Regions from separate parts of the Homo sapiens genome. Here all the other regions are linked to region 7. The links come from fine-mapping of genetic effects on gene expression. A gene starts in region 7. Each other region holds a variant in brackets. All regions are shown on one strand. Distances are between the middles of the regions. Region 1 holds the start of PITRM1-AS1 (PITRM1 antisense RNA 1). Region 2 holds the start of SNORD142 (small nucleolar RNA, C/D box 142). Region 3 overlaps PITRM1 (pitrilysin metallopeptidase 1). Region 4 overlaps PFKP (phosphofructokinase, platelet). Region 5 overlaps LOC105376360 (a long non-coding RNA gene). Region 6 holds the start of LINC02668 (long intergenic non-protein coding RNA 2668). Region 7 holds the start of PITRM1 (pitrilysin metallopeptidase 1).

Region 1 (4,053 bases), 31 kb before region 7:
GGCTACCTACGTATCTACCTACATGCCTGCCTACCTACCTAATCTAGCTATGCATCCACGGGACAGGGTCTCACTGTCGCCCAGGCTGGTGTGCAGTGGCGCAATCTGCTCACTGCAGTTTCAACCTCCCCAGGCTCAAGGGATCCTCCCGCCTTAGCCTCCTGTAGCTAGGACCACAGGCACTTGCCACTGCGGCCGGCTGGCTCCTTCTTAAAAACTGTTGGAATACATGTTCTCTTAGGCAGCAAAGCCATAGAAAATCAAGAATATTGCTTTACAGTAACGGTGTTATGTTTATGAAAGCTAACAGAACTGCATCCACATCAGGCACCTCCAACTGAAATGAGCTAAGAACGCTCTCAGGCTGTATCAGCCCCCTCACCTGGGGCCTGTGTTTCAGGACCCCCACGGCAGGGCTGCAACCTCAGACAGCCACTATGGATACTATGTTTTTTTCCTATACCTATGATAAAGTTTATAGATTAGGTGCAGCAAGATATTAACAAAATACAACAATTATACTGTAATAAAAGTTACGCTGATGGGCTACTATTAAGTAAAACAAGGGTTCTGTGAACAGAAGCTCTTGGATACCCACAGCGTATCTGATACCTAGACGGCTACTGGGTGACCAACAGGCAGGTACCGTAGACAGCGTCAGCTTTCATCCCACTGCTTAGAAGAATGGTGTACAATTTAAAACTTAGGAAGTGTTTATGTCTGGAATTTTCCATTTAATATTTTCAGACCGAGGGGGACTGTGGGTAATAAACCATGGAAGGCAAACCCACGGATGGAGGCACTACCGTGTTCTGCCAAAATATGCTGGCTGAAGCCAGGGTTTACTGAAGGCAGAATGCTTCCTGTTTCGGCTGCTGGCCCTAATCCTCGCGCCAGAAAGGACATTGCTGGGTGTGGCTAAGTGCCCAAGGAGTGAAAAGAAGCACACAGAACAACTTTTGTCTAAAATTCACTGCAGTAGAAGAAAATGACACTGATAATCATGAGTAGAAGACTAAAACGACGTGTGCATCCCAATGTGTGAACTAGAGCAAAACTCACCTGTAAGAGTAAAGGGTGAAAATCCCATTGTGGCTGAGTTTTGCGCCTCCACCATAAGCACCGCCTTTTTCTCGAATTTCTGTATGCAAGAATTTGGCAGTCATCAAACGTGCAAGGATTTTAAGACTGAAATGATTAAAAAATGCAAGTTAATACCGTGGCTGATAAAAAAGCATAGACAATGAAGTAATTGTTGGATTAAGTGAAAATGAAAATCGAGTTGTAAAATAATGCTGCATAAATTATGGTCCCATATTTTGGTCTTGTTTTTTAAGAGATGGGGTCTCGCTCTGTCGCCAGGCTGGAGTGCATTAGTGCAATCACAGCTCACTGCAGCTTTGAACTCCTGGGCTCAAGGGATCCTCCCACAACAGCCTCCTGAGTAGCTGGGCCTACAGGTGTGTGCCACCACGCCTGACTATTTTTACAGTTTTTGTAGAGGCAGGGTCTAGCTTTGTTGCCCAGGCTGGTCTCAAACACCTGGCTTCAAGTGATCCTCCTGCCTTCAAAGTGCTGAGCTTACAGGCATGAGATTTTCTTTTCAATTAACCAAAACTAAAAAGCACAAGGAAGCACAATTTTCAAACAGTTGGCTTAGATTACAGGGTTGAAGGGAGAGGTGGTGGGGAGGGAATCTTAACACTTCCAGCACCACACTGCTTAACTTGTTCCAATGCACATGTGGCATTTTTAAAATCTCGTGAAGTAGAAAGAGGTTATTTCTATTATAAAGGCAAATGAGCAAATGAACATTTATTTAAATGTCTCACATCAGAATATGGAAAGAAAGGAAACTGAAGTGAGTTTTATAAGAATCCCTTAAGAAAACACACACTCTCTGATAAAGCACATTTCTAGGAACAGGGCCAATTTCCTCTGCCTTCCACTGTGAACGGTAACATCACATTCAAGCTGATTCTAGAACACATCCACCTCCGACAGAAGGCGGGGCAGACAATGATGGGAGGGTCTGCAGCACAGACACAGGCTCCTTGAAGACGCCC[G/A]TGGTGAGATCAGCCCCAGGTCGCCGCTTCCACAGACAGGCCTTTTCCTAAAGTGGATGAAGGGAGTCAAATAGGCCAGGTGGGAAATCAAGGAAGGAGTGGGCGTGTTCCCAGGGGCTGTGGTGGGAGAAGTCACGACCATCTCGTGTGGGTCCTCCAGGAGAAACCCAGCGCCACTCGGGTGGCTGGGGCGCCGTCAGCCGGGACTAGCGAGGCTGGAGTCAGACCCTGGGGGACGGAGTCTCCACCAGCACCGGCAGGGATGGCGTTCCATCCGTCCACACATTATCCTTCCTGAGAAATTTCTATTACTTGTATATTAAAAACATGCTCACTTTTGAAAGATTATAAAATACAAAACACAAGGAAAAAAAGATCTGGAATCCCACTGCCCAGGGGGAACCTCCACATTTTTAGTGTTTTCTGTCTACATTTTCCTGTTGGATAGTGGAAACAGACACCACTCTTCTGCCGGCATAGCAGACAGATCTGTTCATCTTCTACAAATATGGAAATAAATGAACAAAACAGCTGACCACATACTTCTACAGCCAGCTCTTTCTGGGCCCCCACTGCAGCCCCACGTTTCTTCCCGCCTGCCTCCTACACACCTCCCCATCTGTGACCCTCTGTGACACACGTGCACCTCGGAGGCCCGGCTCCTTCTCCAATCAGGACAGGCTGCCCAGGCCTAAGCCTGCCTTCCCCCTCTCTACCAGGCTCACTCCTTGGTTTAGTCCCTCATGGGGGTAGCTGCCTGGGACAAGGACACAGGAAGTGAATTTCCGGGATATAACATGTTTGCACATATCTGTGTCATACACACCCAACTGACGGGTCCCCAAAGGTGCACGTCTGTGAGTCTGTCCTGGTCTGGCCAGTTTCCCCAGATGGGATGAACACAGCCAAGGGGCAGCCAGAGTTCGGAAGAAGGGGCTGGAGGGCCAGTCTGTAGGCTGCAAACTCCCTCGCCCCACGCCACTTTGGGAACAGGCCTGACCCTGACTCTTGGCTGTGGCTTCGGCTGCTCAACCCAGGGCCTCCTTCCCTGAGCTTCTGACTTGGTGGGGAGACAGGGGAGACAAACTCCTTAGAGGGACTGTGAGGCGGCCTCCAGCCCTGCCATCTGCAGGGCTCTGCAGGACCACCTGGTTTCTCCCCACTGCCCTGTCCCTCTGTGGCCCCAGGTCAGGCACCCCCCACCCACCCAGAGTCTGGCTCACGAGGTTCTCCTGCAGCCCCCATGGCTCTCCGGGTCACCTCCCACTCTTTCCCTTGTAGCTTCGTGTCTTGATCTGCCTTTGCTGTCATTCACGCATCTGTCCTCATGAAGGCTTAACCTACCATGTTTATCAGAAATCTCAGCCTAAATTCATTCGATTTTTACCTAGAGATGAGGTGAGTACATGGGGCATGTTGAAAGCAGTCTGTGTTTAAGGTCATAGGTATCTGTATTGTTCATAGGACTCCTCAATAATAGAAATTGTTTACAAAAATGACTGGCTCTAAAACTGGGTCTCTGTTCACAAAGACTGCTGGTTAAAGAGGAGCACTCGTAGACTCACACAGCCCCAGGTCCAACACTCAGAGTCAGCACAGACTTTTCCTGTGCTAAAACACGCCCTGTGAACTCGAACAGCCTTGACAAGCTCTTCCGTAAGGCTCAGGCCTGAGAGGTCCCGACCTACACCCTCCTACCTGGCATGATCTGGGTCCGTGTAGGGGACAGTTCGGATGCATTCACCCACGTAATTCACCGGGAAGGGCATCAGGAAGTGAGTCTTCATCTGCCAGGGCTTGAAGGTGGGTTCCTGAGGGACACGGTATGGTCAGAGGCGGCTGTGCTGCCATGCACCGCCCACGGCACTGGGACTGGACCCACTCAGGGGTCAGAGGCGGCTGTGCTCCCACGCACTGCCCACGGCACTGGGACTGGAGCCATCTCAGGGGTCCCATCTCCGTGACACTCTGCAGCCAGGTGCTGGGG
Region 2 (4,066 bases), 37 kb before region 7:
AGCCACTGTGCCCAGCCAAAACATCTGAACTTTTAAGTGATGCCAAACATCACCAGCTTTAGGATTCTTTTGTTGGTGAGGTTTGAGTAATGGGGATTTTAAGGGAACTGTCAGCTTTCATGAAAACAGTGATACCCCCATTACTTGGAAATGCTTATTCAAATTAAACACTTCATCAAGTTAAAAACTGGAGCTTCCCTAAGATTTAAAATGGATTATCAGACATGTAGTATACTTGACACCCCAAGTCAGAATGACCTGGAATGAGCTGCACACAGGCACACACGTGTTATGAGCTGAGCCTGGGACACAGGGTCCAGGCCTCCTAACTTGCACACACTCCTTCCTCACCACCTCCTATTCTTATACTTTTAAGCCAGAGCCCATGAATCCCCTGCAATGATGATGAAATAGTAGGCATATGTGTGATCTTCTTAAAGAATCCACAACGGTTATCAGATTAAAGCTGTGACCCATCCCCAGCTCAGATGAGTTCATGAAATCCTGATTTAAGATTTTAAAATAATGAAGATTGTTAGTTGACTTGTTCGGTTTATTAAAATCCTCATCTTACTGAGCGGGGGGAACACTTGATACTTTTTCTTAACAGGCCAAGTTCAGGCTACGGGAATCACAGGTTTTGTTCTGTTCCAACTATAAGGACCTAGAAATAAAAACATGAATTCTGCAAAATAGAAATTGTCATTTCTATTTAACAGCAAAGTGTTACTGTATAACTGGTATTTCATATAACTCTAACCACCAACAGGGTGGGGCACCCTCTCCATTTGATAGAAACTTTGGAACCAAAATCTCTGCCAGAGCTATGGAGTGGATCACTGCAAAACTCAAGGAGGCCCGGGGCAGAGGTAAGGGGTCTGGGGAGGGAGGCCACAGCCTCGTGATGCAGGCCGTCCTGCCTTGGTGAAAATGCTGTCCTATCGGGGAGAAGTAGGGTGCTGGTTCCTTCTTCAGTTCAGTACTGAGCTGCACGTGATGTTTTACTCCTGATCTCTGAGTGTTGCTATTTAACCAACCTTGGATTCCTGGGATAAGATCAGCTTGGGTATGACATGTTCTCTTTTATCACTGCTAGATGCAGTCTGCAGTTCTTTTGTGCAGGCTTTTTGCTCTAGAGATCCTGAACGTTGGCCAGCAATTTCCCCTCACAGTTTAAGTGGGGCCTTCTATTTTTTGAATGTTTGCTAGGACAACCTCCTTGTGACTATCCATCAAAACTTCCAGTTTTGAGGAAGATCTGACTGCTGAATGAATTGTTCATGTTTGTAGAACTGCATGTTCGTAGAACTGTGCATGTTCTTCCTTAAATCAGTTCTGTAAGTTACATATTCTAAGAAATCTTTAAACTGAAGTTTCAAGAAACATGACTTTTTTATAATACTCTTGTTAATGGCTCCAACATGGCTGTTCCCCACTCATTCCTGAGTGGCTCTTTGTGCCAGCATCTTTCTCACCCCCACCCCCCTCAGCTTTCTTAATCAGTCATAGCAGATGTGTGCTTTTATTCCGGCAAACCACTATCACTGCCAGTGTCCAACTTAGAAAAATGACAGTCTATAAAAACCAGTGATGTGAATAGTTTCAATGGGTTTGTCTTTTTGAAGAACTGACTTTGGCTTTGATTCTTTCTACAGCGATTTTCTTTTGCTAATTTAGCTATGGATGCTTTTTGCCTCTCAGTGTGTGTATGTGTGAGCATAAATTAGTGTCCTGTAATTTAAGCTAATTTCCCTATT[C/A]CACTATTTAGTGAAAAATTCTCTCCACTGGGAGGAAAAAACAAAAGCTGCTTTCCAGGAAGCCCTCGGGGCAGTCCCACAGGAGCAGAGCTGCACGAGGCCAGGTGCTGGCCCCACTGCGCGGCTGTTCTCAGTCTCACTGGGCTTCCAGGCCGGGTTCAGCATGGTTCTGAGGAATCTCAGTTCTCATCTCGCCCCGTGATTCTGCTCCCCCACCTGCCCATGTTGACAGGGTGTTATTAATCTTTTTTAAAATCTTTTATAGGAAAAAAATTTACCACCGATGATTCCATTTGTGTGCTGGGAATAAGCAAAAGAAACGTTATTTTTCAACCTGTGGCAGAGCTGAAGAAGCAAACGGATTTTGAGTAAGTTGGCTGGGTTCCCTGAGGCAATAAGACCCCAATGTGAGTACGGGACAGGGGAATGGCCATTGCTGTTGCTGTCGGCAACTCATTCAGGGGTTTGAGGAACTGGCTTTTCTGAAGCTCAGTTAAAAAAATACTAGGTCTTGGCTGGGCGCGGTGGCTCATGCCTATAATCCCAGCACTGTGGGAGGCCGAGACAGGTGGATCACAAGGTCAAGAGATCGAGACCAACCTGGCTCATATGGTGAAACCCCATCTCTACTAAAAATACAAAAATGAGCCAGGCATGGTGATGCACACCTGTAGTCCCAGCTACTCAGGAGGCTGAGGCAGGAGAAATCGCTTGAACCCGGGAGGCAGAGGTTGCAGTGAGCTGAGATTGCACCACTGTACTCAAGCCTGGCGACAGAGCGAGACTCCACCACTGGGTCTTCGGGAATAATTTTAAACAATGGTTTCATTTGATCCTGAAATTGGCTTTATCATCTAGTTGATTCAGCCGACCCTACAAACCCTGTGTTTCTGGCAAGACCGCTCGCTGTGCTGGCCAGGCGGAGGCATCTCCCGCCAGTGACTGCAGGCCTCACTGCTGTCTCCTCTTACCTCCACAGGCACAGGATTCCCAAAGAACAGTGGTGGCTCAAGCTACGGCCCCTCATGAAAATCCTGGCCAAGTACAAGGCCAGCTATGACGTGTCGGACTCAGGCCAGCTGGAACATGTGCAGCCCTGGAGTGTCTGACCCAGTCCCGCCTGCATGTGCCTGCAGCCACCGTGGACTGTCTGTTTTTGTAACACTTAAGTTATTTTATCAGCACTTTATGCACGTATTATTGACATTAATACCTAATCGGCGAGTGCCCATCTGCCCCACCTGCTCCAGTGCGTGCTGTCTGTGGAGTGTGTCTCATGCTTTCAGATGTGCATATGAGCAGAATTAATTAAACATTTGCCTATGACTCCAACAGTCCTCTGTTTTAGTTTTTTAAGTAGGAGATTAGTACCTCAATCTATGGGTGGCTACTAAAGGTTTTCTCAGTTTTGTGGGCAAAGATTAGCAAAATATTTTTATAGGGATCACTGAACTATGCACACGTCATACAAGGAGAACAAAGCCAGGAGTTCACACAGGCCAAGGGGAAGGCCACGTTTACTCACCATTCCATATCTGCCATGTGTCAGTTTCCATCCACAGCAGCAGGCCGGGACCCTGGGCCTCGACCCCAGGCTCCTGCTCTCCTTTGAAAGTAAAACATGAATCTTAGTTACTTGTCCTCTTGATTGCAATCCTAGCTGCATGTTAAAACCACCAAGGGGTGGGTGGGGCGGAGGTGGGTTCAAAAATCTGATAGCCAGCTTCTCCTCCAGGCCAAGCCACAGTCCTCGCTGGGACCTAGGTTGGAACTCTCCGGAAGACTCCTGCCAGAGTAGACACGGCTGCTGGGATGACAGCCCTGCTGCCCTGGTGGGCCCCCCTCCTGTAGGGACAGCGTTTCTGCCTCTTAGCTCTAGTCTGCAAGAGAGAACAGCTGCGCCTCAGAAATGGGGGCAGAGAGCTGGGTGGAGGGAGAGGAGAGGCCAAAAACAAACTCTGTTTGGGAAATCAGAGTCCGACAGCCAAGAAAGAGCTAGCGCGGAGGCTTTCCTTTCTGGCTCTGTAACGATGAAGCAAGCGCTTACTCACCCCAACCCACTTGCTTCTCAGGACGGTTTCCATGCAGCCGCCGCGGTGAACTCCCGTCTGGTGGACACTCCCCCAGGGCCTCGGTGTGATGGAGTTTCCTGAATCAGCGCAGGCAGACGTGGGACACCCTTGTGCACCTTTTCATTTTACTTCTGTTTTTAAATAAAGGCCCTAAATGCTGCTTAAAATAATGACTCAAGCAGAGGTTAAGTCAGAGTTGCCCTTTATTTTTAGATTCTTAAATATTCTAGAATGAGG
Region 3 (4,066 bases), 25 kb before region 7:
TTCCGCACAGTTCAATGTGGCAGCTAATGAAGCCGTCCATACGCGGAGCCTGTGACTCTAAACTCTAGTTCTTCTGAAGAGCAAAGAAAATACAGAGACTATTAAGATCTGCTAACCGTGCCTTCGGAATTACACTATCAAAACACTGACAACTTTTAAAATTACTGTCCAGAAGTCATCAATTTGAAAATGTGAACTGGTTGTTAAAGCAGAACATTATAAACTGCAAAAAAATACCATGCTCTCAAAGTTACATGAAAATAGAACTCTTCCAAATTCCACAGAATTGCAAATACTACTATCATATAAAAGCTACTTGAACTCTACAGTATATTGACAGAGTGTATATTTTTTCCTTTCAGCTGTAAATCCTGAACTTATTCTAGTTAAAGTAACAGCAGGTACCATTATATTAATACTAACTATATCCCAGGCATGTATGCTGCCTTGCAGATATTCTTTCTTTTATTCCTTACGATAAACCTGCAAAGGAAGGTTTTATGGAGGAGGAAGCAGAAGACGCAAGTGGGTCAGCTGCCCAGGACCGCCTGGGAGCGAGTGTGAGTGCTGACCCGGCGGCACCAGAAGCCAGGCCTGCCTGAGCCCAATGCCAAGAGACCCTGATCGCCAGGCTTCACCTCTGGCCACCCACAGACCGCCCTGTAGAATCTGCCAGGGATTCTCAGGACATGACTGGGGAAAGGCATCAGGACTCTGTGTGAAGAAGGACAAGTGACTTCAGCAAACATTTTCTTGTTAAGTACTGATGAATACATCAATGTCACTGACAATAAGATGCTGAAAATAAACAATCATTTTTAAACTTTATTCATGCTCACACATCTGAGGGCATAAGGCCAACTGAAGGTATAGGACTGAGCTGCCAGATGTTTCCTCAAAGCATCACATAATTTTATAAGAAACTGCACTTTTACTCTGGTCTTCAGCAAGCTCACCTTTACAGATACCTCAGTTACGGACCATGTGCTTTTGGAAGCAATATAACTACTTGCCCTCAATCTATTTGCACTTCTAGCACAAAATTAGCCTGCTTTCTTCCCCATCTCCTACAACTTTTAATAGGCTTAAAATATTTTCTTAGTTTGTTAGAACACTTGACATTTACAATAAATTCTATAACCTTTACCAAGCACTCTATCTTGAAGTTTCTACAAGTAAGAAATACCTAAAAACTATACTTAATAGAATGAATCATAAAATATTTAGAAACAAATCACACATGCACCTCATATTATCACCATTTAACAAGTGTTTCTTGATACGCGGGAGCTTCCTCAGGATGGGTTTGATATCTGTCATTTCTGCAATCCTCTTCATCAGCCGCACCTAAGCCAGAGGAAACTCGCTCAGAGAGAGGCAGAGGCTACAACAGACCCGCTGAGTCTGAACCAAGCACCTGTGACATCAGAACCCTGCTTGGGCAGGGGTTATGTGTGCGAGTGCACGGCTTGGGCAGGGCTGGAACTGGGATGCAGGGTGGTACAAAGAGGAAGATGAGTCAAAACCAACCAACCAATTCTTCCCCATATTTAGTCAGTTAGAAAGTTAGCATTTCTGGGACATAAATTAATGTATTCCCAAAGAAATTAGTAACTCTGGAATATGTGGCTAAACCGGAGTAATAGAGGTTCCTTCCAAGCTTCCCACCTGATCCATCCCGCTGAAGGTCTCCTGCAGGTCCCCTGCGGGCGTGAGGGTCCGGCCTGCCCTGATGGATGCGTACAGGTGCCCAGAGTCAGGAATTCCATTGGCGAGCTCCTGGGCGGTCATCTTCACCAGCACCTTGAAGTGCTCCTCTTCTTCAAAGCACGGGCTATGGAAAAAGGAGAAGAAAAAATTCCTGGAGACCCATTCCTCACGTCCCTTCAGTATCATGGAAAGTTGATTAAGTTTTCAGAGTACTTTAACAACCAAAGAAATTTTATAAGTCCATATGAACTACAAGTAAAAGTCAGACTTGGAAAACAACAACACACACGAGTAAAACTGTCTCCTTTAAAGTACTTCAAACAAAGATCTCTAGTACACCCCAAGAATGGACAACTCTTGCAAATAAAGTTACTTGTTAAATATTTCACTCCATAGCTGCATCATGTCTGGCAGGTTTCGATCCAGGCAGAGAGAGGAGAAAAGCACACCCTGAACCAAAGAAAACACAGAAGAAAGGAATTAGGGCCGAATCGAACAGTGACAGACACTGGAGAAAAGCTTCCCACCGCAGCAGTCGTCTGACGGTACCAGGCTACCTGCTCGTAGGTGTCCATGTGTGAGTCGTCGGGGAGCACGTGGGGAGAAGCACTCATCCCTCCGGTCTTCAATTCTATCTGCTGAGCCTGCTCCCGGTAGTCAAGAAGGCCGCAGCCCAGCCTGACACAGCAGAGA[A/T]GCATCGCCCCGATTACAAGTCAGTCTTTACTGAATCATTTTTAAAATCGTGCATCTTGAGTTACAAGTTGCTTCCATTAATTCAATAACTGCGGCTTTGCCAACCTCTCTACACTTCGAAGGTCATAAGCAGGTGCACTCTGGCCTTCGCCCTCGAGAGTTCATGTGCCCCCTTCCCCAGGGAGACCCCAGTTTCTCCCGCCTAGGAAGTTAGCGTCCAGAGGCACAAGACACTTGGGCAGCCAGTGTCTGCACTTAAAACACCATTCTAAAATAGGCATTTCCAGTTGTAAGCTCTTCAATAAATGTTTTATGACTACTCCCTACTCTCTTCACCCAGATCACCGTGATACATACTTCCTTTGTTTTGCTCGAATGTCTGGTAGCCTGGGCGGGGGAGTCCGAAGACTAAAGGTTTTTTAAGTTTTTAAGAAAAGCAGTTTCCTCTCAGCACTCATGCTTTTGAAAGAAACATTCACAGTGACACTGCTAATGCCAGCAATAATTGAGTCAAGGGAATGACCATGAGGTGTTTTCTAAACCGCTACAAAAGGATGAACAGTGGCAGCTATATTTAAAAAGAAAGGCAGGGAACCTTCAAAACCCTGAAGACATTTTTCCATCTGAGCGGACCCTCAGCCAGGGTGCAGAAGGTGTCACAGCCACATAGCTTTCTGCAGCATGCAGACAACTTCATCTCCACAAAGGGAAGACCCCAGCTGCATGTCAGGTTGGGCAGTGGTCCCTGAAGCTGGCTGCAGGGTTCCCTGTCGCCCTATTATTCTGGATGGGAACAGGAGCCCACAGCCCTGTCTACTGCTTGTCCTGCAACCTCGGCCACGGCAGAGCTGGGCAAAAAGTCAAGTGTTGATGTGTGCACTCGTGTGTGTGTTTCCAGATCTGTGCACACCCCACCTAGGGAGGACGACAGCAACTGCAGGGTCGGCTTGGAGGAGGAGCCACGCACGCAGCAGGCACACCTGTTCCTAAGGCAGCCCCAGGCCACACTGCACATCCAATTACTTACATTTTCGGATTAAACCATCAATCCTTTCCAAAGCTTCATAGGCTGAGATGGAGATCTATAAGTATCTCCTTATATTATACCGTAGATTCATAACTATTTCAATGTAATATAGTAAGAAAATGTTACTTTCATAAAAAATTCTAAACCAATATATTGTACACCATACTTACACACTAACATTGTAAGTTGTGATTCACTGAAGGTAATTCCTACTGATGCATTAGAATACAGATATGCACACAAAGCAGACATTAATAAGACACACAAGGGTATGTTGCGACTCGTACTTGGTGAGGACGCTGCAGAAGAGGGGCACATAGGGCCTCAGCTCCTCGGGGAGTGTGTTCAGGCTGGAGAAGGCCCGGAAATACACCATGCCATTGGTGGGCTGGGCGCAGTACTGAACAGGGATATCTCCAGCTAGAAAAACAAAAGGGATTTAATTTTTATTGCTGCCAGTAAAATTCTAACCACTTGTAATATTTAAAAACAATGCTATTTATTGTTTTTTCAAGAATGGAGGTTTAAGACTTATACTAGAGTTTATATAAATTTCCCAATCATATTTTCATGACTAAAAACTGGAACTGTCTTCAATAGTAAAGCAACCCGTGCTCTCCAAGGAATGGGAACGGA
Region 4 (4,066 bases), 43 kb before region 7:
TTAAACTTGGGTGCACAGACTCTCACGTGGCTCCTAGTCTCAAGTCCACACCCCCACTTCATGCTCTTACTCTTGGCTGAGTCCCATGGAGGCCCATTAGGGAATCCTGCAGGATCAGCCGTTGACCAGGACGGACGGACGGCTGGCTGGGGAATACCATGCTTATGTCATTCAGAGACAAGCATTTCTTGAGCGCCTGCTGTGGGGGCTCGGCCGGGTGCTGCTGATGGTGCACTGGTGTAAGCCCAGCCCACAGTTCCTGTCCTCATGGAATTTGCAGCCTAGTGAGGAAGATCCTCCCAAGTCAAATAACCACAAGGTAACTGCAGGGAGAGACACCGGGATAATTTCTGTGAAGAGAGGACATGGGGTGGCTCCGAGAGCCCCTGACAGAGGGAACTTTGTGGTCCTAGAAACCAGGTGGTGTTTTCCTGAGGAAATGACATTTTCCTCTGGATCAGAGCTGAGGAAGGTGCCTCTGTGTGTCCCGTGGCCGCTGTGACACTGACCACACACCTGGGGCTGGAAAATAATACTCTCTCCCACAGCTCTGGAGCGCAGGAGCCATGGGCTGAGGCCAGAATGTTTGCTCCAGGAGCGTCCCTCGTGGCCCGTTCAGGTGCCCAGAGTTGCGGGCCTTGCACGCCTTGTACGCCTTGTTCCCTGGCGCCTCCTCCTTCCATGTGGGTGTGCAGCATCCCGCTCCAGGGCCTTCAGCCTCTGCGCCCCTCATCTGCTGATGCAGGTGATGGCATTTAAGGCCCACCTGGGTACTCCTAGGATTCACCTTTATCACCGCATGAGGGAGCATTCCCAGGTTCCAGGGATTAGGGATAGGACTGGGATTCCTTTGGGGGCTGCTCTCCCGCCCACCACTGTGCCGGAATGTGATGCACACAGCGGCCAGCATATCCAAAGGCCCCAGGAGGACCTGGGGTGGCTGGAACAGGACCTGGTGCCGGGAGCAGGCGGGGCCGGGGATTCCCGACAAAGGCTTGATGTGTACTTGAAGTGAGCAAAGGGTTTTGAATAAACCAAGAACTGGATCAGATTTATGTTTTTTATAGATGGGGTCCTTTCTGTGTGAACGGATTGGAGGGTCCCGGGGTGGGAGCTGAGGCCCAGGAAGAGGGCGTTGCAGCCGGACTGATGTATGGGTGGGAAGGCGGCCGATGCATTTCTTTGCCATTTTTCTCCCCGCCGAGCTTGGGTCCTCATGGAGGGCGGATGGCAGACATTTCACTCTGGGATCCGATGCCTGTGCATCTGGAAGACTTCCCCAGGTGCCTGGGTCTAAGAACCACCATCTGCCTTTGAGTAGAGTTTCCATAAATGTAACATTCGCCAATGGATGGAAGATGGCCGCACCTCTAAAATCACAGGGAGCTTTTCAGAAGAAAATAGAATAGCACAGCGGTTCTCACGGACTAAGCTGGCAGGGGACAGTCCCCTAACATCTCAGCTAACACCTAACGGTGTCTGTGTCCGGTGAAAGCGGCTTCAGCAGGGACAGTCACAGAGCAGCGTGGAGTGAGCTGGCTTGTGG[GGTC/G]GTCTTTTCCGTCCCCTTCTATGGGGCCTGGGAGAAGGGAGCGGCAGATGGCCAGGCCCCCAAAACGGGACATCGAGGTCACCTCCAGGTGGCTGCCATGGTGGGGTTGCGGGGGACCACGTTCACACCCACTCCGAGGGCACATCCTGGCTGCTGCACACCCTTCACCTCTGCGGGATGCTGGGACCGCATGTTTGGGCGCGGTGGGGGGGCCTTGCTGCACTCACTCTTGGGGGAGCTCTGGGATGGTGGGCGCGCCCCGGGCCTGGGCTGGAGTGACTGATCGCTTCTCTGTGACCAGACCTGCGACCGCATCAAGCAGTCCGCCAGCGGAACCAAGCGGCGCGTGTTCATCATCGAGACCATGGGCGGCTACTGTGGCTACCTGGCCAACATGGGGGGGCTCGCGGCCGGAGCTGATGCCGCATACATTTTCGAAGAGCCCTTCGACATCAGGGATCTGCAGGTATGTGACGGGGCTGGCCTCAGGGCCCGTCCCCTTGGGATCCACTGGGTGCTGCGGAGTGAATCATCGTGTCTAGGGTGGTTTGCTTTCCAAGGGGCATGGAGATGGAGATGCTACAGAACATGCCACGCTTGATACACTTCGCATCGCCCAGGTGCCCCTACTGCGTGTCAGGTGACGGTGGGTGTGCCTGGTTGAGGACACCTTCTAGTCTCATGTGTGAAACACAAGCTTGTTTGTTTGACATAGTCTGTTGTGTAGTTAATGTTGTCTCACTTATGTCACCAATGATTTGAGAACCTCCGCTGACAGTCACCACCCACGTCTGCGACAGGCTCTGAAGGTTGCTGCAGCTTCTTTTAAATCCTGAGGCCCCTGATGCTGCGTCTGCCTCTAAACGGACACAGACATGACCGTGGTTTCTCGGCATCTGTGGCTCTTTTAGGGAAGGGTGTCGCTGACCCCGCGGTCTGCCCCTGCTTGGACGACACAGCAGAATCCAGGCCTGGACCCTGCAACATTCAAAGTTGCTAAACTTCATGCAAGATGACAGGCCTTGGCAGATAAAATGCAACTTGAACAATTGTCTTTATTTAGAGAGGGAGTCTTGCTGTCACCCAGGCTGGAGTGCAGTGGCGTGGTCTCGGCTTACTGCAACCTCCAACTCCCAGGTTCAAGCGATTCACCTGCCTTAGCCTCCCAAGTAGCTGGGATTACAGGCACGTGCCACCACGCCCAGCTAATTTTGTATTTTTAGTAGAGATGAGGTTTCACCATGTTGGTCAGGCTGGTCTCAAACTTCTGACCTCGTGATCTGCCCACCTCGGCCTCCCAAAGTGCTGGGATTACAGGCATGAGCCACCGCGCCCAGCACCATTGTCTTTTAAAAAGTTAGGATGTTACTTGTTTCTGAGCCAAATAGATCAAGTAAAAAGGGCCTTGGCACTAATTATGTGACATGTGAATCACGAATTTCTTTACCATGTCAAATATTTGTGGAGTCATTCACTGCATCATGATGTTTCTGTCAACAGTGGGTCCCATAAGATTATAATGGAGCTGCCCCAAACAGGTGCAGTTTTTTATCTTTTATAAAAACATATCTTTTTACATATATTTTTATAATATATATTTTATAAAAAGATGTTTTTTATCAAAAAATATGTATCTCTTACTGTGCTTTTCTACATCTAGACATGTTTAGATACACAATTGCCTGCAGTATTCAACAGTCCCAGACATTCAGGTTTGTAGCCAGGAACAACAGGTGTGCAGCAGGCTCTGCCTCCTGGGTTTGTGTGAGTTCACTGTAGGATGTTTGCGCAAGGCTTAAGTCACCTAGCAATGCATTTCTCAAGGAACATATCCCCCTGTTACATGACTCATGACCGTATTTCAGAAATCTATCCAAAGATCCTGCCTCACCAGCGCTCAGCATGGCAAGGGCTTAAGAGAAATTATGACAGATTTTTATTTTTTGCTTTAATTTTTGAGATGGAGTCTCGCTCTGTCACCCAGGCTGGAGTGTAGTGGCACAATCTCGGCTCACTGCAACTTCCGCCTCCTGGGTTTAAGCAATTCTCCTGCCTCAGCCTCCCAAGTAGGTGGGACTACAGGCACCTGCCACCACGCCTGGCTAATTTTTTGTATTTTTAGTAGAGACGGGGGTTTCACCATGTTGGCCAGGCTGCTCTCAAACTCCTGACCTCAGGCAATCTATCCGCCTTGGCCTCCCAAAGTGCTGGGACTACAGGCATGAGCCACCATGCCTGGCCTCCTACTTTGTGAAATTCTGCCATTGCGCCCAGTGACAGATTTGATTAGATGTAAAAACCTCCATTTTCTTAGGATGAATCATTAGAGAATTACCTCCCTCTTGTAATCCTCCTAACATGATCTGAAATGGGGATGTTCTTACTCTAAGACCATCTTTTCCTTAAGAAATCTGTGTATGAATGTGAGTCTACAAAATTCTTTGGTCAGACACTGCTCATCAGGCCGTCACATGAGATTCCATAGAAAGGCCACAGGTCACTCTTTCCTCTGAGAGC
Region 5 (4,066 bases), 560 kb after region 7:
CAATCTTTTACATGTACGTAATGGTGTGTATTTTTGTGTCTTGTTTAAAAAGACATTCGAAAAAATGATAATAAAAAAACTTCCTAAATCCCATAGTCATATTGATTTTTGTTTTGTATATTGTCTTAAAATTTTTAATTTTGCTTTTTACACTTAAGACTTTAATCAGTCTAGAATTGATTTTTACACACGATATGAAGTGGAGATCTAATTTCTTCATTTTCATTTTGGTTTTCTGGATGAATGAATAAGGGTTAAAAGTTATCATTTACTAAATAGTCCATTTTTCTCCTACAAAAGGAATAAATCAATTTCCAATCATCTATTTCTCTATCCCTTGTCAATACCACATTTACAACTGGGCCCAACCCTAAGTGGTACAGAGGCCCACAGATAAGTAAATGATTGCAGAATAAACTTTGCCAGCTTTAGGACTTTGGCTAGACGTAGCTGGTTCTGCGTGGCATTTTTTAGCCTAGAAACTCAAAGTGCCCCATAGCCTGATTAGGATACACGTGTCATCTTTTCTTCTCCTATTACAAATAAACTAAAGCAGGGACCTGGGTAGCTTGCATATGCATGGGTAGCCTGCAGGGGCTTTGAAATGAAACTGCCTGAGTTCAAAGCCTGATTTCACCACTTACTAACTTAGATCACTTGTCCTTGAGAAATTACCGGATGTCTTTCAGCTTCAATTTCTTATTTATCAAATGCTAATAATAATGTATTCATACCTTAAAATGCTATAAGAATGGACTGAGAAGCCCAAGTGCGGTGGCTCACGCCTGTAATCCCAGCACTTTGGGAGGCCGAGGCGGGCAGATTGCCTGAGCTCAGTAGCTGGAGACCAGCCTGGGCAACATGGTGAAACCCCATCTCTACTAAAATACAAAAAATTAGCTGAGTTTGGTGGCACACACCTGCAATCCCAGCTACTAGGGAGGTTGAGGCAGGAGAATTGCTAGAACCCAGGAGGCAGAGGTTGCAGTGAGCCAAGATCACGCCACTGCACTCCAGCCTGGGCAACAGAGTGAGACTCTGTCTCTCAAAAAAAAAAAAAAAAAAAAAAAAAGAATGGACTGAGAAAATAGGGATAACCTGGCAGTATAATCAAAAGCATGCCGTAGAAAGAAAAGGTTTGTCTCACTGGATACGTGGAGTTATGCGGCCGCAAGACCAGGCACTGGTTCACTGGCTTCCCATTCTGAGCCCTTTTCTCCTTGACTTTTGGTCTTATAGAGTCTGGAAATTTCAAAACCACATTTCACAGGTTTTCTTGCCACTAAGATGACTCAGACCACTGAGCTTCTGTCAAACAGGCAGATCCACCAACAAGCTGGTAAATAGCAGGAGATGGACGCCGCACACGGCTGCCTCTCCTTGCAGGCATGAGGGTGAAGGGGCCTTCAGTGGAGCCCGTGGGGATGGGGGTCCTAGTCCCAGCCAGGCAGTGGCCACCGCAGCATGTGTTTCCATGACAACACTGGACACCGGCATTTCTCTCGTCTCTTTTGGTTCTAGCTGAGTAGTATTCAAGCCATGTTTTCTAGCTGTTTAGATTTCCTGACCTATCTAATATTTGTATTCATTCATTCCACAAATATCTGCAATGTACCTACTATGTTCTCGGCAGGTTTGAGGAGCTTGAAATACATCAGTGGATACAATAGATGAAGATCCTTTGCCTTCAGGGGCTTGTATTACAGCCAGTGAAGACAAATGTAAATATGCAATGTAATGAATGCGTGCAATGGTATGGGAGAAGGTGGTAAGCACTCTGGAAAAACAAAAAGTAGAGCCGGACAGGAGGGGTCAAGTGTGGCAGAGGAGGTGGCAGGGCTGCGATTTTAAGTAGGGTCCTTGGGTTGTCTTCACAGCACCATGAAATTAAAAGATTTCCTGGAGCGAGAGTTCCCACA[T/A]TGATGTCCCAGGGGTGGGTGAGAGGAGAGCCATGGGTGCAGCCCCGCAGGCCAGGTGCCCTGGGTCTGACCAGGAGAAAAACCAGGGTGAACCTCGCCGTGAGGCCGCCGCCCTCTTTACGCAGACAACACGGTTTTCCTGACTCTGTCCTGACATTGGCCCAGCCTTCATCGTGTCCCCTTTGGAAGTCTCCCCTCCACAGCTAACCTCCCACACTTAGCCATCCTCATCAGGCTGTGCTGGACCCTTGAAATACTCCACAGTGGACTGCTTTGTTCAGCGCAAGGCAGTGGGTGTCGTTGGGCAGTGGACAGTCTTATTCACCTTTTCGCCTTCAGCTTCTAGCGGGAATATATTCGGCTTTCAGAAATGATTGTGAAGAAACAAATGAGCAGATCTGTGAATACATTATCACCTCTATTTTCCTCCTCTAGGTCAATTAGGAGTTATGGCCTATGGTGTGTATATGGCAGGTAAACTCGTTCTTCTACTTAGATGTCCCATCTATGTTGCTCTTTGTTTAGTATTGCAAAAGCATAAGTTCCCTTAAATAATAAAATAAACATGACTTAAATGGTTTGAGCTAGTGGCCACACGTAATGAGCTGGACCTTTCTTGGGCTTCAGCCGCTCCCTGAGATCCCATTAAGTACTTTGGGTTGACTTGCACACTGCCAGGGTGGCTCATTAGTGAGTTACTGCCTCAGTACCTATGCCCTTTTAATGTCTCCTTGGGCCCAGAAGAGCCTCATGTAATATTAAAATATAGTTCAATACATACTCACCTTCTTCTGGGTTTTCACTTCAGAGATTTGGGTCAAGATAGCAAACACCTTCATATATCAAAATAAAGAAATACATGTACGTAAGTAATTTTGTAGCACTTACATATTAAGGTTGCTATGTGTGTGGACACAGGAACAATTCTGAAGAAGCCAGGAGAACGCCACAGTGATGACGAGGACTCCTCTCGAACACAGAGCACTCCCACTCCATAGGACTCGCTGGGCTTTCCAAACTTAGCAACCCAGTTTACCAGGCTCAGTAGGACAGGACAGTTCACTACCCACTGATGCATGTTATTTGGGGGAAGATTTAGTGAAAATTTGAAGAATTCAAGCTCAGAGTCTCAAATGTATATGTACACAATGCTCATCACTCACACAACTGAAAACTGTCTCCACTTTTACACCAAATACCCTCATGATGGGATTTGCACACATCAGCATCGACATAGATTTAATCAGTGATTAGGCCTATTCATAGGAAATAGAGACTTGGACTTGTTATTTTAAAAACCTTTAAAAGGAAGAAGAGCCGGGTGTGGTGGCTCACGCCTGTAATCCTATCACCTTGGGAGGCAGAGGTGGGCAAATCACCTGAGACCAGCCTGGCCAACATGGTGAAACCCTGGCTCTACTAAAAATACAAAAATTAACCAGGTATGGTGGCAGGCACTTGTAATTCCAGCTACTCAGGAGTCTGAGGCAAGAGAATTGCTTGAACCCAGAAGGCGGAGGTTGCAGCGACCCAAGAGTGCACCACTGCACTCCAGCCTGGGTGACAGAGCAAGACTCAGTCTCAAATAAATAAATCAACAAAAAGAGAAAGATACTAGATTTTTCCATGTACTAGGGTTAATTTGGCGGCTATGTGTTACATTAACATACCTTACAATAATTACATGCATTACATTACATTTTTGTCCAAACAGTATTATGAGAATATGTTTTACATGTCTATGTGTCCTGGTAGGTTAAATTCCCCTTTCTTGCTCTTCTTTTTTAAAATTCACAGTTGCACTTGGCTATTCTCACTCACTTATTTTCAAGGTATATTTGTAAGTGAATTTATAAAGATTCCAGAGGAAATTCATTTAGATCTTGTTTAAAATTACATATGACATAATATAGACAAAAATTATACCTTTATTGATATGGTTTGGCTGTGTCCCCACCTAAATCTCATCTTGAATTCCCACGTTTTGTGGGAGGGACCTGCTGGGAGGTAACTGAATCATGGGGACAAGTCTTTCCCATGCTGTTCTCATGATACTGATTAAGTCTCATGAGATCTGACAGTTTTATAAAGAGGAGTTTCCCTGTACAATCTCTCTCTCTCTTTGCCTGCTGCCATCCATGTAAGAC
Region 6 (4,066 bases), 83 kb after region 7:
TTCCATCCACCCACCTACCCACCTATCCAACCATCCACCTATTCCCCCATCCACCCCTCCACTCATCCACCCACTTATCCACACACCTACCCTCCCATCCACCTATCCATCTATCAATCCATCCCCCCATCTACCCACCTATCCAACCATCCACCTATTCCCCCATCCGCCCCTCCACTCACCCACCCACCCACTCATCCATCTGTTGGTCCATCATCTTCCTATCTATTAATCTACCCATGGACCAAGCTCTTCAACTTTTTTTCAACACTGCAGAGGATTTTGCTTATTTTTTCATTTAAAAATATAACCTAAAAGAGAAATAGCAGAGAAGTGCTGAAGGTTAGAGAGCTAGAATCAGAATCAAAGTCTCTGAGCACAACCAGCCCATTTTTCATCAAGTCTAATAAAATAATTTGAGTACTTCTGCTTTCCTGAAATAAACAAAAATTTGATTTTCAACAAGCTACATGTTGATAATAAAGTTCATAAATCCTCTTCCACATTAAAAGGACACAATTTGAAATGGAGACACAATGGTCAGCTCTTAGCTATCTACATACCGAAGATTTATTTCCAAGACCCGTAAAAGAGCGGCACCCTTTGGCTCTTGCAAACACAGATGTCGATCATCACTACAGCCTGCCTGCTCATTGCTGGTTACACAGAACAATCTCCTCTGCTGTTTTTAGAATCTTGAGCTACTTCTGTTATTTTTTAAAAGAGTCAACAGCTATTTTACAGTTTTGTTTTTTAGGAACAATTTTCATTATATTTTACTCTCACGAACTTTTAAAAAATGATTTTGAAATGTTCCAGTCTGCCTATGGGCTGGCATCAAGAGTCAGCAAAGTCACAGACCTCCCACACTGTGAGATCAGACTAATGCTTTGTGTAATTAGCCAAGGGATACAAAATATTTACAAAAGAGACCTGACTTTGCAGACAGGCCCAGGTGCAGTCTACTTCCATCCAGCTTCTGGTGGTCACGAAATTTAGAGCAGAGACATGCAAAATTGCTGTTTCCCTCATCTGTGAGAGGCGGGGCCCAGCCAAATCTGAGCTCAATGTTTGTGGCAAAAATGACCGGGGGCCAGGAGCAGTGGCTCTAGCCTGTAATCCCAGCACTTTGGGAGGCCAAGGCGGGTGGATCACCTGAGGTCAGGAGTTCACGACCAGCCTGACCAACACAGTAAAACCCCATCTCTACTAAAAATACTAAAATTAGCTGGGCATGATGATGGGCACCTGTAGTCCCAGCTACTCAGGAGGCTGAGGCAGGAGAATCACTTGAACCAGGGAGGCAGAGGTTGCAGTGAGTTGAGATAGCGCCACTGCACTCCAGCCCGGGTGACAGAGTAAGACCCTGTCTCAAAAAAAAAAAAAAATCTCTAGATGTGCAGACCTTACTGAACCATTCAGGAAACAAATACACAATGCATTTGCTTGTATTTAGAGGAAAGCTTATAAACATAATGTTTTCTGTTTTCTTAAGCTGAGACTTGGGTAGGAACACAGTGGGAGGGAGCTGAGTCCACAGCCAGGAGAGCCTGAATCTACTGCTTGCGGCTTTCCAGAGTCCCAGGGAACTGTTTCCTCCAACTTAGCCTCTGGCTTCGAGTTGATGCCCTTTTCAATGAGGTATCCTGAGGAGCAAACCCATTCCTTCAACCTGAAGTGCCTCTCCTTGCTACTAAAATAGACTCAAGTAGATTGCAGTTTATAGCATTTTGTAGGTCTTATTTTAAAGCCCAGTTGACAATGGTTTTAGGAATTAAAACAGATGTGACTGTAGAATTTTGATCCTAAGCATCTACTGTTGGTCCTCCCAGTCTGATACAGCTCTGTCTGTAGACAGTCATCCCGGGTCTAGCCCTCACTTTGAATGACTTGGTTTTATAGATTAGTCCACAGTCTCAGATTTAATTAAGCATACATTTCAAATGAATAGACATACATTTAATGTACACACATACATGCCTTTAATGTTCAGATTTGGACCGGGTGTGGTGGCTCACACCTGTAATCTCAGCACTTTGGGAGGCCAAGGTGGGCAGATTGCTTGAGTCCAGGAGTTTGAGACCAACCAAGGCAATGTAGCAAAAACCCTGTCTCTACTAAAACTACAAAAAAGTAGCTGGGCATTGTGGCACATACCTGTAATCCCAGTTAATCAGGAAGCTGAGGTGGGAGAATCACCTGAGCCAGGGAGGTTGAGGC[T/G]GCAGTGAGCTGAGATCACACCATTGCACTCCAGCCTGGGTGAACAGAGCACAACCCCATCTCAAAAAAGGCAAAACAAAACAGAAAACACACAACCCCCCCCAAACACACAATGTTCAGATTTGGTGGAACATACATACATACAGGACATATGAGAAACCTCCAAGCTATGTGGAAATCCACACGTATACTGAGAAACTTTCAAACCAAAGAGGGCAAAGCAAGGGAGGCTGCGGCCTGTGGAGAGACCAGGCCAGGACTGCCAGGCTCCTGGGGCCTTGGAGGCACTCGGGAAGGGTGGGTTTCCTGAGCTTGCTCTCCAGAAAAGCTTTCCTCTTCCTCCCAGCCCAGGTGAAGCAAATCTCTCAAACAGGATGGCCTCAGGGTGAGCAGAGCCACTGGGCCGCAGGGGATCTTTCCTGGACTGTTGGGGGAACTGACAACCTCCTCACGGGCACGATGGGAGTCCCTTCTTTGAAAAGATCCCAGTGATTTGGTTTTTATATCTGATCTCTTTAGAAGCTCTTGCAGCAAAGACTATTTTATTAAACAAACTTTTAATGCTCTTTTCAAAGCCCAGGTTATTCCTTTAGTCTTGTGTGTGTGTAAGGAGTATCTTACCTTTCTCCTCTTCTTCATTTTCTCTTTTATTCCATACACTCTCTTTTTGCAAAGCGGTTTATATATGTCCTTATGCTTTCTGATGATTTTGGGAGGAAGATGAAAATATCCTCCATCAGAATCCAGAAGAGAAAAGGGAAGCAGAGAAGGCTCAGCTGTGGACACTCAGGTCCCCCCAGGGCTGAGGGGAGCTCTCATTCCTGGTCTTCCTCATTCCCCAATTTTTCTAGGCTTCTTGTTACCATGGTTACTCCTTGTCTGGTGGCATGAGGAGATGTCAGAGACCATTTTAGTGTCTATTTTGCCTCATTTTTTATCTTCATGAAGGATGGGTAAAGAAATACTGTCCCGAACTCAACAAAACCTTCTCAGGATCAGGGCTCCACCCTCAGACTTGGAATTCTGTGATGTTAACCCCTTCTGAGAGGTGATGAAATGTGTCCTTTTAAACTGTCTTCTGGAAAGAGATGTAGGAGGGACCGGAGAGACTATCTGCAGCAAGGCTTTTGCCAGAATAATGTTAACATTGAATGTGCACAGGAAGAGACCGGCATGAGTGAAACTGTGACGCAGCTGTCTACTTCCCGGCTGTAAGGTGAAAATGCACCTTCCCACAGGAGGCCCTCCCTGGCCCGGCCTGGACTCACCTCCCAGGCGGCGTCCTTCATGGAGGAGGAGCTGAAGTCTGCGGGGCGGGGGCTTTCATCCTTGTTTACGGGTCTTAATTCGTTCCTCAAGTGCACACTGTTCAAGGAAAGGATGTGTTGCCTCTGCAACCATGGTTTTCTCATTCAACGCCTACCCCAGGACACACCAAGGGAAGGACAGAGCCGAGACCCAGACAGGCTGGTGACAGCAGTGCAGACACATTTCCAGGTGGAGGGTTTGCAGCCTGCTCTAACTTAATGTTCCCGCTCCCACACTCCACTCCCAGTCTGAAATGCATTTCGAGGAGAACAAGTAAAACCTGCCCTCTTAGAGTTCAAAGTTTCCCGGAGACAGCTGAGGCCGATAGCTTATTGTTTAGGTAAGAACAACAGAACAGAGAGGCAGAGGGATTCCCGAGGTTTGCGGAGCGGATCGGTAAGGGTGAGCCCCGAACCTGTCTTCGCTCAGTTCCATAGTCGACAGCCTCCTTACCTACTGCAAGTGTCCAGAAAAACCCGTTTAGAGGACAAGAGGCTCCGGAAAGAAGCCTGCTCAGCTGCGGTTACTAGTCCTGTCA
Region 7 (4,066 bases):
GGAGGCTGAGGCAGGAGAATCGCTTGAACCCGGGAAGTGGAGGCTGCAGTGGGCCGAGATCACGCCACTGCACTCCAGCCTGGGTGACAGAGCAAGACTGTCGGAAAAAAAAGAAAAAAATGCTGAAGATTGGAAATCCATTCACCTCTTGGTCTCTATCGTCCACACCTTACACTGCGGCCCCAGCACTCACAGACAAAAATGTCAGCACGAACCCTGACAGTCCCAAACTCAACTCACCCGGAGGTGTATCGACAGAGAATGGATAAAGTGCGGACTAATCGTTCAATTAAAAAAAAAAAAAAAAAAAAAAAAAAAAAAAAAAAAACCTTACCAATATAAGGGCCTACAGTGGCATGTAACAAAGATATGGGTCACATAACGTGAAACAAAAGATACACATGATACAGTATTATCCTAAACAGGTATTATTCAAATAGGTAACAAGACATTGTCAGAACGCATAAAAATGGTAAAATATTAAAAAAAAAAAAAGCAAGGACATTTCTGTATGTTATGACCGTGATAATCTAAGAGGGAGGGAGAGAGTTACGAGCAGTTAGGGGAATCTTCAACTTGGTCACAGGGACACTAATTTTCTTTTTTGAGACAGATCTCACTCTGTTGCCCAGGCTGGAGTGCAGCGGTGCAATCTCGACTCACTGCAACCTCCACCTCCCGGGTTCAAGCAATTCTGTCTCAGCCTCCTGAGTGGCTGGGACTACAAGTGCTCACTACTACGCCCAGCTAATTTTTGTATTTTTAGTAGAGACAGTTTCACCATGTCGGCCAGGCTGGTCTTGAACTCCTGACCTCAAGTGGTCTGCCCGCCTTGGCCTCCCAACATGCTGGGATTACAGGTGTGAGCCACCGCGCCCAACCTATTTCTAATAATTATTCTCACCTGAATGAGATGGCTCACACCTGTAACCCCGCAATGCGAGAGGCTGAGGAGGGGGATCAAACCAGCCTGGGAAACAGAGCAAGATCCCTGCTCTTAAAAAACACGTAATTATTATTCTCTCCAATTGTATTATATGTCGTATGGGATTTTCTACATTAATGTATCCCACCGAAATATTTATTTTAAAGATAATATGTACAGGAAGAAAAAACCTATTCAGTCACTGGCAATATTATGAAGATATGCTATAACCAACATTTGCTTACTGATTTAGCAAATTTCAGAATTATGGGACAGAAGCGTTTTAAGAAGTTACTTATCAAGGACATGATAGGAAACTCCTGAGCGGTAAGGCCAGGCCGAACTCATGCCACGGACGCCCCGTGCCTCCCGGCCTGGGCCGGCAGCGCTGAACTATTACCTTATATTAAACACGGGCTCGTGGATTACCATGAACACTAAACTGCTTCGTCATTTTTTTCCCCATAAATTGAGTCATTAAAAAAACAAAACAGTTCAATTCCGGGAGGCGTCAGTTCTCTGAACACAGCGAGACTTTAAGTATGGGCTGTGGGCGCCTCGGGTCTCTTAAGGACTCGGCCTCCCAACAAAAATGAACTAGGAGCAAAGCTGTCAGCGAGAACCGCAAATGCCGACCCCATTTACTACCCCCGTTAAAGCCCACGCTAATGGAGGGCCCCGCCGGGAGCGCCGCGGGCAGGCCCGGCCCCCAGCCCGGGGCATCGCCCCTGGGAGTAGGAAGGAGCTCCGAGGTCCTCCGGCCTCGGAGCCTCGGATGCGGGAGCTCCAGGAAGGGCTCGGGGTGCGGGACGCCCACAGCTTGGGGAGCTGCCAGCCCCGGGCGCAGGGACGAGGACCCCTACGCCTCCGGCCTGCCCTGGACCCTCCCCTCCCGGGTACCAGCGCGCCGAGCGCCTCCCGTCGCAGCGTCTCACCCGCCGCTCAGCCGCCTCAGCACACACAGGCCCTGCCGCCCGCCGCAGCGCCACATTGCGCATGACGAGCACCTGGCTGGCGAGGAACCCCCTCTTAACCCGACGCAGGGCGCGGGGCGGGGCTTGCCGTGACAGCTACCACTCCTATTGGTCAACGCGAACAGCGACGTCCTCTGCGATAGGCTGTAGGTGAAAAGGGTAGGCCTCCACTGCTCTGGGACGGGCGGGAGGGCGGTGCGGACGGAGATGGGCGGGAGGGGCGGGGCCGACGTGCCGAAGGAGGCGGGCAAGGCGAGGGGCGTGGTACGGGTAGAAAGGGGCGGGGCCGTCTTGCCGAAAGGGGCGGGGTTCGGCCAGCAGCAGGATGTGGACAGATGATAGGAGGGGGAAGTGGGCAGGCGAGAAGTGGGGCGTGGCGAGAGGCGTGTGTATGCAGATGAAGTGGGGCCTGGTGAAGGGCGGGGCTGCGCTGGTGAAAAGAGGGGCTCCTGGAATGGCGTGCTGTGTTGGGTGGGGCTGTGCAAGTGATGGGAGGGGCTTAGCGAGGGGTGGCTCTTTGCAGGTGAGGAGTGGAGACCAGTGGGAGAGGGGATTGCAAGTGAGCTGAGCCTTGGGGGCGGGGCTTGCAGGTGACAGGGTGGAGCCTAGTGGGCGGGGATGCAAGTGAGCTGGGCCTTGGGGATGGGGCTTGCAGGCGATGGGGTGGAGCCTGGTGGGGCGGGGCTGCAGGTGAGCTGGGCCTTGGGGGCGGGGCTTGCATGCGAGAGGTGGGTCCTTGTGGGGGCAGGGCTGGCAGAAGTGGGTGGGGCTTGGTGATGGACCGCGGTGTTCAGGTGAGGGTAGTGGCCTGGTTGGGGGCTGCCGGAAGCTGGGCCAGGTGAAACTTGGTAGCCCTCTCTGGCCTTGGTGTGGGCGTTGGTCCTGTTTGTAGGGCTGAGCTGAGCTCCAAAGGCGTTCTGCTGCCCCGCCAGGCCTGAACCTTGGGGTCTGGGGGCTTCTTGGATGAGATCTCAAGGCTGCATGGCAGGTCCCAGGGCCAGGGCCCCACGGTGTCACACGTATCACGGATGGCCGCCAGCGAAGCACAGCACAGCTCCGAGCTGCTGCATGGGAGCCTGTGGCCCCCGCTGCTGCCTCCGCTTTCCTCTTCGTTTCGTGTCTAGGAAGATGCACCTGAGCCCCCTGACATTGCCCAAGTGCCCAAGGGCCCTTCTGGGAACCCCCAGAGAGGCTGAAGGAGGCCCCCGTAGGAGTGGGTGGTTCTGCACTGTGGGCCAGAAGGGGCCCTGGGATTAGCCACGCTTGGAGAGGGTGGGGTAGCCCTTGGAGGAAGTCCGCACCAAGTCTGACCTTCCGGGTTTCTCAGAGCCTCTCTTCCTTCCTCCCTTCACCTTCTCCCTCTTTTTTTCCCCTTGTATCACGAATACAAACAGGCTCAAATCTCCCTCTGTCTCCTAATGGGCTCTGAAAAAAAAAATTAAAAATTAAATGGTAAGTAGATGGCTGCAGTCGGCTTGAACAAGCTAAAACTTTGGAAGCAATGTGGAAGGTAATACTGTGGGAAAAAGTCCCAACGTGTCTACCCTAAACTCTCCATAGGGCAGCCAGTTCTGGGCTGCAGGTAAACACGTACCTCCTTATTGAAGAGCCCAAAGGAACCAGAACACAGGCAATAATAGGAGCGACAGACACAAACACGCTCTGCGCATCACCCGTCTTCTAGGGAGAATTTGGGTGTGTGCACACAAAATATCCGATCTAGGTCTCAATCAATTTAGAAAGTTAATTTTGCCAAGGTTAAGGGCATGCCCATGACACAGCCCCAGGAGGTCCAGATGACATGTGGCCAACATGGTCGTGGCACAACTTTTTTTTTTTTTTTTTTTTAATACCGTGTCTCACTCTGTCGCCCTGGCTGGATTGCAGTGGCGCAATCTTGGCTCAGTGCAACCTCAGCCTCCCGGGCTCAAGCGAGTCTCCTGCTTCAGCTTCCCGAGTAGCTGGGATTACAGGCACCCACCACTATGCCCAGCTAATTTTTTTTTTTTTTGTATTTTTAGTAGAGACGGGGTTTCACCATATTGGTCAGGCTGGTCTCGAACTCCTGACCTCGTGATTTGCCCGCCTCCGCCTCCCAAAGTATTGGGATTACAGGCGTGAGCCACCGCGCCTGGCCACAACTTGCTTTTATACATTTTAGGGAGAT

The links. PIP is the estimated chance that this variant, and not a neighbour inherited with it, causes the effect.
Region 1: its variant is fine-mapped to the expression of PITRM1 in tibial artery (GTEx, PIP above 0.99). The same link has a PIP of 0.9 or more in thyroid.
Region 2: its variant is fine-mapped to the expression of PITRM1 in blood mononuclear cells (TOPMed, PIP above 0.99).
Region 3: its variant is fine-mapped to the expression of PITRM1 in T cells (TOPMed, PIP above 0.99). The same link has a PIP of 0.9 or more in CD4 T cells, aorta, atrial appendage, blood mononuclear cells, breast and caudate.
Region 4: its variant is fine-mapped to the expression of PITRM1 in whole blood (TOPMed, PIP above 0.99).
Region 5: its variant is fine-mapped to the expression of PITRM1 in vagina (GTEx, PIP 0.98).
Region 6: its variant is fine-mapped to the expression of PITRM1 in pancreas (GTEx, PIP 0.97).

What each region holds. Positions count from the first base shown.
Region 1 is chr10:3,139,625-3,143,677 of GRCh38, forward strand. It overlaps PITRM1 (pitrilysin metallopeptidase 1), which reads right to left. Exons shown (of 27, transcript NM_014889.4): 23 at 3,765-3,877; 24 at 1,063-1,188. PITRM1-AS1 (PITRM1 antisense RNA 1) reads left to right here and starts at 1,977. Exons shown (of 4, transcript NR_038284.1): 1 at 1,977-2,145; 2 at 3,348-3,464. RefSeq lists enhancers at 1,717-2,218, 2,219-2,718. The variant G/A (reference allele first, on the strand shown) is at 2,067.
Region 2 is chr10:3,133,714-3,137,779 of GRCh38, forward strand. It overlaps PFKP (phosphofructokinase, platelet), which reads left to right. Exons shown (of 22, transcript NM_002627.5): 20 at 770-869; 21 at 2,023-2,125; 22 at 2,737-3,089. The coding sequence ends at 2,866. It overlaps SNORD142 (small nucleolar RNA, C/D box 142), which reads left to right and starts at 391; the gene lies at 391-585. It overlaps PITRM1 (pitrilysin metallopeptidase 1), which reads right to left. Exons shown (of 27, transcript NM_014889.4): 27 at 4,015-4,066. RefSeq lists enhancers at 2,270-2,771, 2,772-3,271. The variant C/A (reference allele first, on the strand shown) is at 1,758.
Region 3 is chr10:3,145,904-3,149,969 of GRCh38, forward strand. It overlaps PITRM1 (pitrilysin metallopeptidase 1), which reads right to left. Exons shown (of 27, transcript NM_014889.4): 16 at 3,718-3,850; 17 at 2,268-2,388; 18 at 2,084-2,160; 19 at 1,669-1,834; 20 at 1,247-1,347. It overlaps PITRM1-AS1 (PITRM1 antisense RNA 1), which reads left to right. Exons shown (of 4, transcript NR_038284.1): 4 at 1-2,726. Among named protein-coding and RNA genes, the nearest start is that of PITRM1-AS1, 6.3 kb to the left of the region's middle. The variant A/T (reference allele first, on the strand shown) is at 2,404.
Region 4 is chr10:3,127,969-3,132,034 of GRCh38, forward strand. It overlaps PFKP (phosphofructokinase, platelet), which reads left to right. Exons shown (of 22, transcript NM_002627.5): 17 at 1,851-2,015. Among named protein-coding and RNA genes, the nearest start is that of SNORD142, 4.1 kb to the right of the region's middle. RefSeq lists an enhancer at 1,247-1,760. The variant GGTC/G (reference allele first, on the strand shown) is at 1,547.
Region 5 is chr10:3,728,313-3,732,378 of GRCh38, forward strand. All of the region lies in intron 1 of LOC105376360 (a long non-coding RNA gene), which reads left to right. Among named protein-coding and RNA genes, the nearest start is that of KLF6, 55 kb to the right of the region's middle. The variant T/A (reference allele first, on the strand shown) is at 1,920.
Region 6 is chr10:3,254,303-3,258,368 of GRCh38, forward strand. LINC02668 (long intergenic non-protein coding RNA 2668) reads right to left here and starts at 3,217. Exons shown (of 3, transcript NR_187504.1): 1 at 2,842-3,217; 2 at 2,158-2,255. The variant T/G (reference allele first, on the strand shown) is at 2,221.
Region 7 is chr10:3,170,857-3,174,922 of GRCh38, forward strand. It overlaps PITRM1 (pitrilysin metallopeptidase 1), which reads right to left and starts at 1,926. Exons shown (of 27, transcript NM_014889.4): 1 at 1,861-1,926. The coding sequence starts at 1,916. RefSeq lists silencers at 1,451-2,290, 2,581-2,740 and an enhancer at 2,939-3,476.